Linked DNA regions of Homo sapiens: region 2 is linked to region 1. The links come from fine-mapping of genetic effects on gene expression. Tissue or cell type: whole blood. Region 1 holds a variant in brackets; the other region holds the start of a gene. All regions are shown on one strand. Distances are between the middles of the regions.

Region 1 (5,264 bases):
AGTTATCCTGCTTGGAGATGACAAGACTGTGGGAGGACCCATGTTTGAGATGCCTATTTGACATCCATAGGAGATGCTGAGTACGGAGTCTGGAAAATGGGAGAGAGGACTGGGTGGGGGATGTAAGTGCAGGAGTTGTCAGCATATGGATAGTACATAAAGCCAGGAGTTTGGAGACTACTATGGGGGTGAGTTTAGACAAAGGAGAGAAGGGGTCCATGGTTTTCAGCTGAGGGCTCTCCAATATTTACAGGTGAGGAGATGAGGAAGCCAGCCAAGGAGTTGGAGCAGAAGCAGGCACTGCAGTAGGAGGACTAAGAGAGAAGAAACTCCTAGAAGCCAAGGGTCTTTAAGGAAGCATCGAGAGAGGACTGATCGCCTGCATCCAATGCTGCTGATGGAGGATGGAATTGCTCACAATATATGGCACTACTGTGGCCATTAGTGACCTTGATGACAGCAGCTTTGGGGGGCAGTGTGACAGAAGCCTGATTGAAATAAGTTTAAGAGAAAAGAGGAGGATAGGAAGTGGAAACAGCCAGTAGAGACAACTTGTTTGGGAAGTGTTACTGTTCAAGAATCTGATTTAACACTTTAGGTTTTGCAAGAAGAGAAACAGATGAAATGATCTTTCCAGCTACTAAGGCTGATTATTACTACCTTTGCTGGGAGGCTCCTTGACCTATGTGATGGGATACATAGATGCCTGGTTCTGATGAACTCATGATGTGAACCACAGGTTTTTCCCTCTCAGAGACTTATTTTAAGGAGGACGAAGGGGAAAAGACAAGGAGAGAGTAATGAAAGAAAGGGACAAGAAAAATGGTAAGAAAGACTTTTAAAGAGTTTCAAGCCATGTTAAGTTTCCTAAACCATTTCTTTTCCATTGCAAACATCACTAACATAACTCCCAAATTTCCTGGTTAAATTTAGCACAGATGTAAAATTTTGAGCACTGGTGGACATGGGTATCTAAACCAATCATCTGATGAGGAAATTGAAGCTTAGAGAAGGGAATTGACTTCCGGGCACTCCCAATTATTAGCCGCGTGGTCTTAGACAAGTTACTTTTAACCTCAGCGTGTTAGTTAATCCATCTGTAAATTGGCAGTGTAAGAATACCCATCACCAATCTAACGTAATCATGCTTAGATTGTTCGAACAGCAGCTATCACATGGTAATACTCAGTAAGTGTTTTTTATTTATTTTTGAGAGACGGTCTCAATCTGTCGCCCAGGCTGGAGTGCAGTGGATCAATCATGGCTCACTGCAGCCCCAGCCTCCTGAGCTCTGGTGGTCCTCCTGCCTCAACCTCCCAGGTTTCTGGGACTACAGGCATGTAGCAAAATGCCCAGCTAATTTTTTGTATTTTTAGGTGAGACGGTGTTTCACCATGTTGCCCAGGCTGGGTTATTCTTTATTTCTGTTGCCCAAGTCACGTGGAGGAATTGTGTCAGATTGGAGTAAGAAGAGGATGATTCTACCTTATCCCTCCCGCCACAAAACACACACATGCGCTATGAGTTAGCTTTTCATTTCTGACCCTCTAATATCCCTTTTTTGGGGCTCCAATCAAAAAGACTTTTCTTTATTCCATACTATGAATATAAAAAGTACTATAATTGAGGACCTGCTGGGTGCAGTGTTAATTTGCTTTTACATATGTCATCATACTTAATCCTCACACAATCCCTACTATCCCATTTCCCCCCTAAATATCCCATTTGATGGATCAAGAAGCCAGTGTTCAAAGCTTCAATAACTTGCCCAAGGTCACACGGCTGGAGATGGCAGATTCAAACCTGGAGTCTGAGACTCCACATCCTTTCACAAGTCTGCCCAATAATATAACACTAGTACCCAATGCCATGCACTGACTTAGTGACTTGCAAGGAATCTGAGGCGCCAGGGCTCTATGTTAAGTAGTTTTAGAACAAGAAATGCTTCATCCGAAATGTATTTTAAACATTAGACTAGGTAGGTATGCATCCACTTTCTTGGACGTGTTTAAAACTTGGGTGAGGCCGGGCATGGTGGCTCACACCTATAATCCCAGCGCTTTGGGAGGCCAAGGCGGGAGGATCACTTGAGGTTAGGAGCTCGAGGCCTGCCTGGCCAACATGGTGAAACCCCGTCTCTACTACTAAAAATACAAAAATTAGCCAGACTTGGTAGTGGGTGCCTGTAATCCCAGCTACTTGGGAGACTAAGGCAGGAAAATTTCTTGAACCCAGGAGGCGAAGGTTACGGTGAGCCAAGATGGCGCCACTGCACTCCAGTCTGGGTGACAGAGTGAGACTGGTGACAGAGTGAGACTTGTCCGAAAAAAAAAAAAAGAAAGAAAGAAACTTGGGTGAGAAATCCACGTAC[A/G]GTTGAATTTATTCTCACCAGGCAAGGACTGGCCTAGTGTCATGGGGGGTGGGGGACAGTAGGGGAAGGGAACAGGAAGTCATTTGCTGGTGGTTGACCGGGCCCCCTGTGACTTCTCAGAGTTATAGAACTGCCACCAACAGTCACAGCAGTTCCTGGAGAACAACGAGAAACTTGGGGTCAGCCAGAAGGCACCTGTGGTGATATCACGAGGTACAGCGGTGGAAAATACACACTTTCTAAGGGGCTGTTTCCCCACTTTGCTGAACACAGGGTACCAGAGAAACTAATTATAGCCACTGAGGGCAATTGACATTTACAAGCATCCGTGCTGTGTGCAGTGCTTCTCCCTCTACTGATCTGTGGCCAGAGCCACGCCTAATGCATGTGGTGGAGGCCACAGGATCCAGGCAGCCTGGGTGTGACAAGGACATCCTCCTCCCTACCCCTTCTTACTGCCAGGAAATCTCTCACACTACTGCAGGTCTGCTATATTCTGATGTGATTATCTCCTCGGACTGTGGGGTAGCATCACTTCCTCAGGGGCAGAGAGGGAACCTGGCCCTTCCGCTATCGGTTAGTCCAGGAAGTGGTGGTTCTTAGGACAGGCAATGAGGATTTGGAAGGAAGGCCTTAGGTGGGAGAAGAAGAGAGAATCTCCATGTCTCTGGGCCTTGCTTTCTTATGCTAGTACTCCCAGGAGTCTGGCAAAACTTGAGGACTTTTCTGGGGGCGAGAGGACAGGGATCTCTGTCATACAGTGGTAGCTTTGAGGGAACCCCCTGAGAATGGGCTGGTCCTAAGCATAGTCCTGATCCTGAGCTGCTAGTAAAGTCTTGTTCAGTTTGTTACACCTTGGCCTCGGCTGTGCTATGGGAAATTAAGGCATCAATCTGTGTGACTACTTAGACAGGACGGGAGAAGGGGAGATGAGGCTATAATCATCCTGATTCCATCTAACATCTCCAAATTGTGAGGCTAGAAGAGCCATGACCGACAGCTTCTACCGAGAGAAAAGGCAAGGCTTTTGTCTTTCTCTTCCTTCCAGCAAAGCTTTCTGGGGCTCCCCTCTTTAGCCTGGTCTGCTGTTCAAGATTCAGAAAACTGAACTGGACTCCTTAGACAGGAATTTTACAGAACTGGGTGACATTGTGGTTGCATTACCTGCCTTCAGGTGGAGAAAGGACATGTCTGCAACCCAAACCTCCTTACAGAGCGGGGCAGACTGAAAGCTCTGAGCAAGGTCTCCCACAGGCAACCTTGCCTCAGGAGGTGAAAGGACATCCTGATGTCCCAAGTCTCTGGGTGGACAGCGATTCCCCATGCAAGAGGCCACACAAGGGATATTAGAGGGGCAGAGATGAAAAGCTAACTCACGGCATATGTGTGTGTTTTGTGGAGGGAGGATAAGGTAGAATCATCCTCTTCTTACTACAATCTGACACAATTCCTCCATGTGACTTGGGCAATAGAAATAAAAAATAACCCAGCCTGGGCAACATGGCAAAACACCGTCTCTACTAAAAATACAAAAAAATTAGCTGGGCATTGTGCTACATGCCTGTAGTCCCAGCAAGCTGGGAGGTTGAGGCAGAAGGACCACATGAGCTCAGGAGGCTGGGGCCGCAGTGAGTCATGGATTGAGCCACTGCACTCCAGTCTGGGCAACAGAGTGAGACCCTGTCTCAGAGCTCTCCTCTGCAGCTGAGATCCCCCTTCCTCTCGCAGTTCTCACCAGCCCCAGCTTGCTGCTACTACCGTGCAGTTTTTCTGCCCCCACAGAGGGACACTGCATCACGATCAGGAAATTCCACCTCCTCGTCCTCTCTCCACAGTCCCTGCTGCCTCTAATCCAATACTGGAAAGAGAAAGCTGAAACAGGGACAAAGAAAGGAAGCACTTGAATCTCCTCTGTTTCTGGAGCATTTTCAAATGACAGGAAAATGTAATTTTGACTACAATTCAAGGGGTTGAACACCATGACCCTCTAGTCCTTGGCGGAGGAGTGCTGCCTCTGTCAGCAAATAGTGGCAAAGCCAGGGGACCACGGTGGAGGCTGGAGACCTCTCTCTTTGTGGTTACAGAACCTGGCAATGGCTGGGAAGCCATATGTTGTGTTCTGAGACTCAAGCATAAACTTCTGCTGGATGTTTGGATTTTGGTTTTTTAATTATCCCCTGTTTTGAGAGAGACAAAAGGGGTGTGTGTCTATGTGTGCTTTGAAGGAAGTAGGGGAACAGATGGGTGGAGAGAATAGAAAGAGGAGAGGAGCCGTCATTACTGGGCTTTCGGATCCGTGTTTCTCCAGCAGTTTCTGCTGTGTCTCTTTGGTGACACATTGGGTAAATGGCCCTAAAAGATGATAGCTATGCCAAAGCTACAACAGCCTCAGAGGTTCTATTGATTCAGAAGCTTTCTGGATTGTCTCTGCCGTAGCATATGCACCACCTCATTCTTAACAGACACTGACAGCAGCGCTACAACTGTTTTGAAGGAGGCAACTTTTGATGGCAGCAATGCAAGGTCTGTCCAGACCATGAAGTCCCACCTCAACCGCCAATCAATAATAAGACATGACATCTTAAGTGTTATTTAAATGCTAAGCACTGTGTCAGCATTTAACATTTATCTCGGCTGGGCGCAGTGGCTCATGCCTGTAATCCCAGCACTTTGGGAGGCCGAGGCGGGCGGATCACGAGGTCAGGAGATCGAGACCATCCTGGCTAACACGGTGAAACCCCGTCTCTACTAAAAATACAAAAAATTAGCCGGGTGTGGTAGTGGGCGCCTGTAGTCCCAGCTACGCGGGAGGCTGAGGCAGGAGAATGGCGTGAACCCGGGAGGCGGAGCTTGCAGTGAGCCGAGATCACGCCACTGCACTCCAGCCCGGGCG
Region 2 (5,000 bases), 62 kb after region 1:
TTTCTTCCCTTAATTAAGCAATTTAGGTTTTTAATGCTGGCCTTATTTCAAAAAAGGCAGTAGCCTGAGACTATGCTAATTCTGCAGCATTCCCCAGCTGACTTCCCCACTCCCACCTCCAGCTTTTTTTTTTTTTTTTTCTTGAGATGAAGTCTCGCTCTGTAACCCAGGCTAGAGTGCAGTGGTGCGATCTTGGCTCACTACAACCTCCACCTACTGGGCTCAAGCGATTCTCTTATCTCAGCCTCCCAAGTAGCTGGGATTACAGGCATGCACCACCCCACCCAGCTAATTTTTGTATTTTTAGTAAAGACAGGGTTTCACCATGTTGGCCAGGCTGGTCTCAAACTTCTGATCTCAAGTGATCCGGCTGCCTCAGCCTCCCAAACTGCTGGGGTTACACCCAGCCCCACCTCCAGTTTTTAAGGAGAGCTGTGCACATTGATCATCCACACCGACGACTTCACCTGAAGCGTCCACACCTGACACACCCCTGCAGAACCCACATTTTCTCCCTGTAATTCTGGTATCAGGAACTGGAGCCCTAGTATTAGGAAGTCGTATTGGGACGTCAGTGGAAGGCAGAAACCATCAGTCCATTTTGCAGCCTTCTAAGGCCACTCCAACGTGTCCCAGCAGCCTGGAGAATAACAAATTCAAGGGTCTACTTTGATTAACAGATTACAACCAAGTTAGTAGAGAATAAACAAGGTTTGCCCAGAGATAAGGGAGGGGAGACATAAAGTTATTGCCTGTAATCCCAGCACTTTGGGAGACCGAGGTGGGTGGATCACCTGAGGTCAGGAGTTCGAGACCAGCCTGGCCAACATGGCAGAACCCCATCTCTTCTAAAAATATAAAAATTAGCCCGGTGTGGTGGCGCATGTCTATGGTCCCAGCTACTCAGGAGGCTAAGGTGGGAGAATCGCTTGAACCTGGGAGGCGGAAGTTACAGAGATTGCGCCACTGCACTCTAGCCTGGCGACACAGCGAGACTCCGTCTCAGAAAAATAAATACATAAATAAAGTTATCACCTGAAAAAAAAATGTGAGAAGGGAAAAAAATAAAAAGGACTTTCATTTACTTGGCCCTCACTGATTAAGTTTGGCCAACTCTCCTGTTCAGGTGCTGTAATTCAAAGATGAAAAGAAGCTGCGCCCAGTCCGGACGCCAGGCCTTGTGTCCCCACCTAAGAAATCTGCACGGCAGGGATTAACCAGGGGAGAAGGGCCTGGCCGCTGGGCCTTGGCTTCCTCTTAGGCAGAGTTCCAGCCCCTGAGACTTGAGCCGACCGGCCTGAGACGACTCCGGCCGCCGCCACCCTATGCTGGCAAACAGGCCTCTCCCCAGCAGGCTCCAGGGGCAGCCACCTGCGCTCTCCCTGCCCTCCCCTACCCCACTCTCCTAGAGGAAGGATGAAGAACAGCTCCCCCTCCTTACTCTCAGGCACCCACAGATTTCTGAGCTGCCGTCACCACTGACGAGAACCCAGGTCCCCTGGAGGGATCGCTTCTCCTTCTGATTCCATCCTCCCCATCAATGAACACGCAGGAACACCCACGCTCCCGCTCCTCCTACTCCAGGGGGAGACCGAACCCGAGAGCGACATCCGGAGCTGGAAGCCGCTGCAACGGGGGCGCCGGCCTCCCTGCCCCGCAGTCTCCCGCCCTTTCCCAGACACCGGAGGATCCCAGACCAGCCCAGTATTCCAGACGGAGAGGGTGCCCGAGTCCTCCGCAGGGCCCCGCCTCCCTAGGCGCTCGGCGCTGGAGACCTAGGGGAGCGCGCGAGAGAAACGCTGAGCTCCACCCGGCTGGGGCGGAGGCTGAGCACTATACCCGGGACTCGAACCCCGCGCCCTCGTCCCCCAGCTTTAGGCATCCCACGGCGAGCCCTGGCCCAACGCCCCCGCGCCGCGTCTTCCCCCGCACCCCCGCCCGGAGCCGAGTCCCGGGTTGCCAGCGCGCCCATCCCGCCCCCAACAGGTCTCGGGCAGCGGGGAGCGCGCTGCCTGTCCCGCAGGCGCTGGGAGGCGAGCCGGAGCGAAGCCGAGGGCCGGCCGCGCGCGCGGGAGGGGTCGCCGAGGGCTGCGAGCCCGGCCACTTACGCGCGGGCTCTGGGGAACCCCATGGAGAGGAGCACGTCCAGCGCCGATCCATGCTTGATGGTGCCGGGGCGCTGTTGGCGGTTCCTCCGGGGGGTGACTTTGCTGTACAGCTCCTCTCTCGCAGCCATGCCGAGCGGACTGGGGTGGCCGTACTGAGCCATGGCTCAGCGGCCAGCCATCGCCAGGGAAGGAGCCCGAGCCGGATGGTTCGGGAAGGAGGAGGGAGTCGGGCTGGGCCAGGGGAGGGGGCTCGGGGACCCAGAGCCAGGCAGGAGGCGGCGGCAGCGGAGGCGGCGCTCCGAGCTTCCCCAGTGTCGGGACTCTGACGCTTCCTGGTGAGGCCACAGGAGCCAGAACGCCGGCAAGCGGCCGCTGCGGGACCAGCCTCAGCCACTCGGGCCCCCGGCTGCCCCCAGCTCTGCGCCTGCAGTAGCCCTGTCTCCTCCGCCCCCTTCCCTCTCCTCGCCTAGCAGTCCGGGAATTTGCAATGAGTAATTTTTGAATGGATCAAAAAGGAAAAGGAGCCTTGTGGGCTGGCCCTGACTTGCCTGTACCCGGGCCCCGCCCCTCTCTTAAAGCGGCCGCGCTGTCCGAGGCTGCTCCGTGCGGGCAAGAGCTGTAGTCGCGCTACTTGGAGACGGAGGATCCCAACCTTATGGGCTGCTTGTGTGCTTCACCTCCCGAGAGTCACCCCCGGCGCCCCAGCCCTCTCCTTGGCTGGCATACCCGCCCAGCTGGGCCTCAAGACAGGAGATCAACCCATCTCAAGTTTCATGTGATTCTAGATGCGGTTATTAATGGAAATTGGGTGAACTGGTGGATGATACTAATGGACCAGAAGGCCAAGCCGTAAGGCCTAGGTAAAAGGTTTTGCTTCTCAAAGATCCTGCAAAACCCAAAGGGTTGTTAGGACCATCGGAAGTTGAGTTCCCAATCAGCCGGCCAAGTGGCTGCACTAAAGACCTACTGCGCTCTACAAGGTTATGGTCAGTGACTGAATAGTGCCTTCCCGGTGGGGCAGAGGGGTTGGGGAGAAGGACCTCAGGTTCTCAGAGGTGGCAGGACCTGGGAGGGGACAAGAAAAGAGGGACAGGGCAGAAAGAAGAGGGAAGGGAAAAAGAAAGGAGGAAGGAGGAGGAGAAGAAGGAAGGGCTAGGAGGGTAGAGGAAGAAGGAACAGAGAAAACATACTTCCTAATTATAAGAGGTGTTCAAAAGGGAACGGGCTTATTTCATTAGGGAGTGGATATCCTGTCAATAAAAGGATTCAAAGACGGACCGAATCACCACTGCACAATAATAAGTGAATTGTATCATAGGCTGGACAAAACTACTCCCACTGCAAAGATGGTGGAAGCCACAACCATATTGATGCCCCATGCCCCACCTGGTGAATTTGGCTGGGGGATGCTAACCCTCTTTCGTTTGGAAACAAAGTCATTGTCTTCAGTCAGGGACAAGGGTCCCACTTGCTATAATGAAAGAGGCAATGAGTACACCCTAACTGATAGTCTTTTTTGGGTAATAATAATAATAAAACCTAACATTTATTGGGCTCTTGTATGTGCCAGTCATTGTGCTAATCGTAATGAATGAACTCACTGAAGTTTTATACTGACCCTAGGAGTGTGTTTAATCATTATCCCAGTTTTACAGATGAGAAAACTCAGCTCAGAGAGGTTGGGGAAGATCATAGAGCTGGTAAGTGCGTAGCTACAGCACTCGTATCCACTGCGGTGCCTTAGACAAGTTACTTCTCTCTACAGCCTAATTTCCTCATTGGTATGGACCGTGGTAACCTAACCTTGCACACACTGGGTTTTCCAGAAATGTCAGTCCGGGCCTGTCCCTGGTTGGAATATGGGGGAGGGATGGTGACCAGCACCCATGGAGTGGCTTTTTGAGGTTGCTTTATAAGGCCTGTGAAGGTTTTACCAGGGGAAATGATACAGTGTAACTCCCTGAGCCCGGAATTGGTTTCCTAAAGAATAGCCAGTGGTGTTTGGAAGCAGGGAGATAAGACAGCTGGAGCTTAAGCAACAATGTGTATTAATTCTGCCTCCTGCTGTACAAAGGATGAGGGAAAATTAATGCTTCCTGGGTAGTAGCTGCTTCCAGAGCAAAGGGGATATCCTGGAGACCTTGCAGAATGCTCTTCCAGGACATGGAGCAAAAAGACAAGACTGGGCTGGCAACACCATACCTAGTATTAGCCTCCTTGGATGTGTTCGGTAAAACATGCTGGATTTTATCCAGTATTCTGAATTGTTTCCAAATGCCTGGGCTGAAAGTCAAATGATCTGGATCTTAGTCAAGAGATAATAATGTATGTGAAAGCGCTTTGTAAACCATAAAGCGCTACATAAATGATAACTCAAATTTATTGAGTACTTACTATATGCTGGTGTTGTTCTTTGCTTCTTACATATGTGACTCAAACAATTCCTTGACAAGACTATGAACTAGGAACTACTTTACAAATGAAGGTGCTGAGCCAGAGGTCAAGTATCTTGTCCAAGGTCACATGGCTAGTAAATGGCAGAGCCAAGATTTGAACTCTTAACATTTGGCCAAACAACTAGTTAACGACCATTGTTATGATGATAAAAGGACACCAGCCTTTAAGATAGTTTTTTGACTCCATCTATGCCCCTTGACATAGAATTGCTGGATCTCTGTTTCTCCAGAAAAATTGAATTAATTGTCTTTCTCCCTGCCTTTAGGCAAACTGTAAGATAAAGGAAATGATGCATATAAAAATAGTTTTAGGTAGACTGGAAAAAGCACTATGAAAAACTAGGCACCTGAGATGCAAACTGTTTTTGTCTGGGACACTTTTACAGAAATCCCAGCTTGGCTTCCTCACTTGTCTTCAGCTCAGTGCAAACCCCTG

The links. PIP is the estimated chance that this variant, and not a neighbour inherited with it, causes the effect.
Region 2: UBASH3B starts here. The variant in region 1 is fine-mapped to the expression of UBASH3B in whole blood (INTERVAL, PIP 0.91).

What each region holds. Positions count from the first base shown.
Region 1 is chr11:122,714,984-122,720,247 of GRCh38, reverse strand. The region is part of intron 1 of UBASH3B (ubiquitin associated and SH3 domain containing B); the gene reads right to left. Among named protein-coding and RNA genes, the nearest start is that of UBASH3B, 62 kb to the right of the region's middle. The variant A/G (reference allele first, on the strand shown) is at 2,372.
Region 2 is chr11:122,653,319-122,658,318 of GRCh38, reverse strand. UBASH3B (ubiquitin associated and SH3 domain containing B) reads right to left here and starts at 2,597. Exons shown (of 14, transcript NM_032873.5): 1 at 2,109-2,597. The coding sequence starts at 2,269. RefSeq lists a silencer at 1,938-1,987 and an enhancer at 2,191-2,692.